Linked DNA regions of Homo sapiens. The protein of the gene in region 2 purifies or fractionates together with the protein of the main gene of each other region. This does not show direct contact. Each region holds a gene or a part of one and is shown on either strand. Other genes may lie near its edges.

What was found. Proteins that work in one complex are often made in the same cells at the same time.
Region 1: the proteins of OR8B8 (region 2) and YLPM1 purify together in Homo sapiens (affinity purification with mass spectrometry; one large-scale study listed by BioGRID and IntAct). This does not show direct contact.

The regions. Positions count from the first base shown.
Region 1 is NC_000014.9:74,783,707-74,787,361, forward strand, and holds part of YLPM1 (YLP motif-containing protein 1), read left to right. Parts: intron 1-3,655. UniProt on the Homo sapiens protein: Plays a role in the reduction of telomerase activity during differentiation of embryonic stem cells by binding to the core promoter of TERT and controlling its down-regulation.
Region 2 is NC_000011.10:124,443,515-124,447,269, reverse strand, and holds the start of OR8B8 (olfactory receptor 8B8), read left to right. Parts: upstream 1-1,573; 5' UTR 1,574-1,694; intron 1,695-3,755. UniProt on the Homo sapiens protein: Odorant receptor. May be involved in taste perception.

The DNA of each region.
Region 1 (3,655 bases), on a different chromosome or scaffold from region 2:
ATTCTGAAAGCAGTGTGGCACAAAACTCCATCCACAATCAAAGTTAAGAGAAAGGGCAATTAACATGAATTCCTCTGTGTACCAAGAAGCCTTGCTAGAGACTTTACACACATTATTATCTCATGGAAGTCTTCTCAACAACCTGTGAAGTAGGCAGATTATTCTCCATTTACTCTTAACAAAATGGCACTGAGAGGACTGCGTAACTTGCTCAGTCAGGATTATTTAGCAGAGTGAGTAGAACCCCAGAATAGGTACAGTTGAGTCTAGAGGGTCCCCAAAGCAAAAGTACTATTTAAGCTCTGTTTACTGCCATGATTCAAGCCTATACTGTCAGTGCTTATTTGGCATGTGTATCATCTTGATTTGAATTCGTTCTTAATCTCCTGGAATGAGCATTGCCTTTTAGATCTGGTAACTAATTTGCTATCAGAGAAGTACATTCTTAACACCTCATGAAACATACATTTCCTGCTCCCTTGATTTCCGTCATGTTAATATTTTCTCTCTTTGCCTACTAAATCTTGGCTGTGTGAATTTAGGACCTATTTTAAGTTTTGTCTTCAGAAGAAAATAACTTCTCAAGTTAATAATCTCTGTGCTGGGAGGATATTAGCAATTATCTAATATATCTGTCTACGGCAACGCACGTTTGTATTCCATTTCAGTTTGTCACAATGAGTCTTGCACATATCATCTTATTTATTCCTCTTAGTGATATCAGGAGGTAAATAAATACATAAGAAAAGCTGAGATTCAGAGAGGTTGTAAATACCTTGCCTCATATAACACAGCTAGTAAATGGTCAAGATGAGATTAGAATCCAAGGACTTCTGACCCACTTTAAGTCCATTGTACTTTCTGTGATGAGCAGTTGTATGCTTAACATTGGCATTGTGATTAGGAACACTGCCATATAAGGCATTGATTCTAGAAAGTTTGTTTTTTACATTGAACCTAAATGTGATTCTTTAACTTTTATCTGTTGATTCTAGATTTGCCTCTGGAGCAACACAGAATGAATTATCCTATGCCTCTTCTACAGCATGTCACTACAGTTATTTAAAAACTATTACCCTCATGTCTCCCTCACCCTACCTCACCCAGTTTGCTCTGCCAATCACAACTCAGATTCTTTTCATCTTAACATTGTTTCTAACCTCATCCTGCTGTACTGCTCACTGTCCTTTGAAGGGCCTTTAGTTTGTTAGTCTCCTTCAGAATGAACACTTACTTCAGATGCAGAGGAGCATGGGCCTAGTACCAACTTCATTATAAATAATGTGCTTATATTGTATAGCTTAACAAATTGCTTTTTTGTTTGTTTTTTTCAGCACTCTCACAGTGTTGACTCTTGTTGAACTTAACATCAATCTAGCTTCCCAGGTCTTTTTCACATTAGCTTTTATTAAGCCAAGTCTCTCTTATCCTGAACTTGTGTGGTTGGTTTTTTGTTTTTGTTTTTCTTGTTCCTTTTTCTAAGACTTTACATTTCTCTTTAGATTGTTTTCTAGTTAGGTTTGCACCATCATTTCAGTCTGCTGAAATCTTGGTCAATGATGATTATATTGTTTTAGGTATGTGATATCCCTCTTCAGCATTTTCATCTGCAGCTTTGATAAGGATGGCTTTTTAATCCTTGAATTGGATCCTACTCACATTATCCACCTTGTTTTGAAAACGTTTCCCCTAACTAGCTTATGTCATTGCCATTTCAGTCACCCCCTGCTGCTTTTGCTCACTCAGCCCTTATAGAGTATAGTTTGGGACTGTTACCCAGGCATAGTTCTTTTTCTCCAGTGTAACTAGGTAAAAAATCAGTGGGAAGCTGGTTAGTGAGTGAACAAGACTGAGGTAAGAATAATCTATACTATTAAGGAAACCTGTGAACTTCTTGTATTTCTAATTCAGATTTTGCTATCAAACATATAACTGATATGAGAAGCCACTTTTTTTAAATAATCAAAGCTGATTAGAAAAACAAGAGTTTAGAACACAACTAAACAAATTTACTGATAACATGCTGTTACAAATAAAGTACTGTAAATGGCTTTGAGTTTTTGCAAAATCCAGATTTAAGCTGCTTTATAAAAACGAGATTTCTAAAAAGTCATGTGACAAAACTGCATGACATGTAAATAACATATCACATTGTTGAGAGTCTAGGGGAGCTGTTTTGACACTGTGTATATCATTGGATTCACTCAGTCTTCCAGAAGACTACCGTTGGTCCAGAAAACTGTCATATCAATGGATGTTGGTTTTCCAGGACCTTTTTTTTCACATATAATAAAACTTATTGAAACGTAACAGAGAAGTGCACAATTTTAAGTGTTCAGCTTAGTGAATTTTCACAAAATAAAGACACACATTGGCCAGGTGCGGTTGCTCATGCCTGTAATCCCAGCACTTTGGGAGGCTGAGGGGGGAGCGGATCATGAGGTTAAGAGTTCGAGACCAGCCTGGTCAATATGGTGAAACCCCATCTCTACTAAAAAATACTAAAATTAGCTGGCATGGTAACATGCGCCTGTAGTCCCAGCTACTTGGGAGGCTGAGGCAGGAGAATTGCTTGAACCCGGGAGGCGGAGGTTGCAGTGAGCCAAGATCGTGCCACTCTACTCCATCCTGGGTGACAGAGTGAGACTCCGTCTCAAAAAAAAAAAAAAAAAAAAAGGCACACATGGTATCACTACTAGATCAAGAAATAGGAATTACTGGTGCCCAAGAAATCTCCCTCATCCCCCTCAGTTATTTTCTAATACCCCAAAGATAACTGCTATACTGAGCCATAGATTAGTTTTGCCTATTTTTGAACTTCATGTGAGTGAAATAATACTGTATGTACTCATGAGTCTGGCATCTTTCACTTGACATTGTATTATTGTGAGAGTCATCCATGTTGTGTGTAGTAGTAGTTTATTCCCGTTCCTGTACAATAGTTCATTGTATGAATATAACACAATCTGTTTATCCATTTTAATATTAATGGTCATTGAAGTTTTTTGGTTATTATGAAAAGTGCTGCTGTGTGTCTTTTGATGCTGTATGTGTCCCTTTAGATGTATGTGTTTGTTTGTGTGTGTTTAATTTTGTTTGGATATCTATTAAGGATTGGAATTGCCTGATTATAGAGTATATACATGTTCTGCGTTAATGGGTATTGTTAAACATTTTTCCAAAGTGGTTGTTTCAGTTTATATTCTCACCAGCAGTGTTTCAGTGTTTCAGTTTTTTTGCATCCTTATCAACACTTGGTATTGTTAAACTTTTAAGGTTTAGCAATCCTAGTGGATGTTTAGTGGTATCATGATAATGGATTTAATTTACATTTCCCTGATGACTAATGAGGTTTCACTTTTTTTATTTGATTATTGTTAATTTGTATTTCCTCTTTTATGAAATGCTGATTCAAGTCTTTTTCCCATTTTTTGACTAGGTTTTATGTCTTACTGATTTTGTAGGAGTTCTTTGTGAATTCTACACATCAGTTTTTTATCCATTATATGTATTACAAATTTCTCACTGCAGGACTTTTTATTTTCTTAATGAGCACTTGAATGTAAACGCTGCATGCTGGGTACAGTGGCTCATGCCTGTAATCCCAGCACTTTGGGAGGCTGACGCGGGCAGATCACTTGAGGTCAGGAGTTTG
Region 2 (3,755 bases):
AGTTTTCTCCTTCCCTTTTATTGATCATGGATAATTATATGGTTCCACCCTTTACCCTTAACTTGTAGTTTCTGCAATCACTTTTATTTACATGACTTCTCAATATGTGTCTTGATATCTTTTTCTCAGCTCTGATCTCATGCTGATGACTCACTACTGACCATTTGCTCTTACATGTACTTTCAGCACATGAAAGTCAGGTCTAAATTCTACCTCTTTATTTATCTCTTTACTTCCTTATTTCTAGGCCCTGGGGTTGAGACTTTAGTAACCTTTGACACTTGGTCTTCCCTCTCGATTCTTCCTTTATAACCATTAATCTAGCAAATTTATTAATCCTCTATCACTACAAATACTTGAGGCCTAAAGAGACAAGGTTGTCCCAACTAACAGATAAACAGGTTTGATTTTTTTAATTCAAGGAAATGTTCTTGTGCAGAGTAGGATAATAAAAGTAACCATTTAATATAACTCGTGAAAACTAATGGCATTAATATGTGTAAAGCATTTAGGATAGTTCCTAGCACATGGTCAGCACTTACAAAGTATAACATATTAGTACTAGTATTAGTATTCTTAATACTAATGATACTAAAATATGATTGGATGATGTTTTTTAAAATGTCAGCTTTGCACTTTGTGCAGATTACTCATTTTCTACAAATGACATAATGTATATAAAACTTTCTGCACAGTGGTTGATACATATGTGTTTATACATGGTAATTATTCCCCAACATAGACCTCCAAGGTCCCATCTAACTCTAGAATTCTATATTAAATACATATATAATTTATGCATAGGTTTGTATATCAATGAGTTGAAAATAATAAAAGTAAAGTCAGATTAAGTATAATGCAGAAACAGATTACTGCTGATATTGCTTTCTCAGGAGTGAATGAAGGCCATTTCAAATGAAGACCTTTCAGTTGCCATCTTTTTTCTCTGATCAGGTTCTGTAATTTCTTATGAAACTTGTACTTGGTCTTCTTGGTATGCTGTGATGGTTGCTGCAGTTGGGTCCAACCTTGTGCCACCAGAAGTCTGAGGGTTAATGTGTGTGTGTGAGAAACATTGTATTGACTCATATTCATGTGTCACATATGAAATCACACAAATTAGAATGTAATTTTGAAAAGTTAGGAAAAAATAGAAATAAATAAAACAAAGAAGCACTATACAGAAATCCAAGTTTTGGAAGGAGGGCAGTTCTGCAACAAAAGGAACAGAGTTAAGAATAGTTCTTCCTACACTGCTTCCTGCTTGGGCTTCATCTGCTCCTCAGGCAACAAGACTTTAGTAAAGCCCCAGTTGAGAGGATTTTGAAGAGTAGTTTCCATGGCAACAGGCTTTAAAATGACATACATCCAGAAGAACTTTTCTTGGTTGTTCTACCATCCAAACAGGAATCCTCTAAGGCTCCCAGAGAAAAGTCAACTTTTAATGAAGCCGGAGTCTTGCTTTCTGTGCCCTAAGGAGCACCTTTCCTGTGGGACTCATTTCATGCTTGTAATAATGACTTATTTTCTTAAATTGTGAGTTGACTACAGTGGGAATGAGAGCAAGGATTGAGGTTTCTCATAATCACTGAGGGAGTGGCAGATTTCTAGGTATAAGAGTTACACTTGAGGCATCTTGTTTCTGAGCAGTGACTAAAATACATTCCACATGTGGCAGAGGAGCAAGCTCTGAGGTATGTTCAAATGTTACCCAGCACTTATACACAAAACACACACACGTGTGTGCGCACACACACCCACTACACACACAGGACTGGAAGAAGGGTGGTAATTAGCTTGCTGCATGGAGGTCAGACAGCTGCCAATGGGGCTCTAATTGTGAAGCCACCACTTCAGCTGCCTTATCCTGACCAAAATGTACCTCTCATTAACTGAGTGCTGTTTGAAATTTCATAACTAGAGATCTATTTTTTTTTTGCTAAAGACTTTGTCTTCATTTTAAGAAATGCCTGGAAGAGGGTGAAGAATGTGGATTGTCCCCAGCAAGTTGTAGTAGACTGTGTGCTGATGAATTTGTGAGATTCTTCTTGAAAACTTAGTTTTGACAGAGAATTGAAGGAAAGTAGCACTAAGATTGTGAATGTTGGGGAAGAGGAATTTTTGCTGAGACTAGGAGACTAGAGATGGGTATAGGAAGAGAAAATGGGAGGCTGTAAAGAAACCCTTACCTGATTTTGGAATTTGGCTTTTGTGGTGTGATAGAATGTGGATATTTGAAAAATAGGCATTGGTGGTAGGACAGGAAGTAGGGACAGGGTAATATACTCAAGGGCCTGATGTTGTCTGTGGATTGGGTTATGTTGGAGAGACAGGCCTTAAAGTTTGAAGAGTGTATTGTTCCCAGGCTCTTCTCACTCTTGTCAGCTGTCTCCTCTGCCCTATGGCAGACCCTCTCTTGTCTCTTTCAGGCTCATTCAGCTTTAAGCAAGATTTTTCCTTCCCTCATGCCATCCCTAGGATATATGCATTTCATATTTGTTTTATGTCTATTTTCTACAGCATTTATCAGGGCTCTTTCTTTTGTCAACCACTCTTCTCGGCTCTTCCACTTTCATGATTTAATTTAACTCTCACAACAACGACACTGTGAATTATCGCCATCATCCCCATTTTATAGATGAGGAGATTGAGAATTAGAGATTAATGAACATTTTGTGAGCTATATGATTCAAAGATATAAAAGTGAATAAAACTACAATGTTGCTAGCATCATTATAGTTCATGGAGGGACAGGACAGTAATACATTGTGAGTAGAGCTGCAAGAGATCTAAGAACAAAGTACTGTAGGATTTGTCGTGGCTAATCCCTATTAAGGTGTGAGCCGATAATTATTTGAGATTACTCCTTCTGGCATTTAGGTGTTTTGATAGGTCATGCTCAAGACATAAAAATTCTCTGAAACATGGTACTGAATAATTTCAGGTCCTTGATGAATTTACTGATGCATATTTAGTTTCTTGTCCTGGAATCAAAGAGACTTGGGTGAGGATGCTTCCTCCCAGGTGGAGTAAGGAACATTTTGTTGAAACCTGATCCGAATACTGTTTTAGGAGTACCTTAGCTGGGATTTCCATAAAAAGCTGTGCTGGGGACAAGGCCATACATGCAGATAGCTTATTTTTAGAAGTCATCCCAGGGAAAAGAGAGAGAGAAAAACAGGGAAGTATAGAAAACCAATAAAAGGTTCTGTTATATGTTACCTTAATGGGGAATTTAGGATTAGTTCCTCTGAGATCTTTTGATGTACTAAGAAGAATGAACCACTGGAGATACACAAAAGGGAGACATTTACCCACTGACTCCCAGGGGTGTTAATTCCTTCACGCTTACAGATCAGCACGTGCACCATAATGGCTGAATGGATTCTCAGATGTACCACTTTGTGGTGGCAGAGGTGTCCTAGGGCTGAAAGGAGGGGATACGTAGTGTAGTCAAGAAACATTGTTATTGGGCTATAGCTGGATGCAGCTCACTGCCACAGCAACAGCAGAAGCCCAAAAGATAGGCTGAGTAATATAAAATGAGGCATAAAACATGTGCAACACAGAGAGCTTGGTGATGGGACCTGAACTCAGACCTGGTGAAAATATTCAGGATAGTAGGCAGAGAACAACACAGCTAGAAGACAGGGCCAGCGTTATGTGACTTGTCATGTGCTAAAAAGCTTAGAAAGGCCTTTTGCTCCATTTACCTGCTACTTGTTTTGAAAATTCATCCTTTATCTTATTGCTGG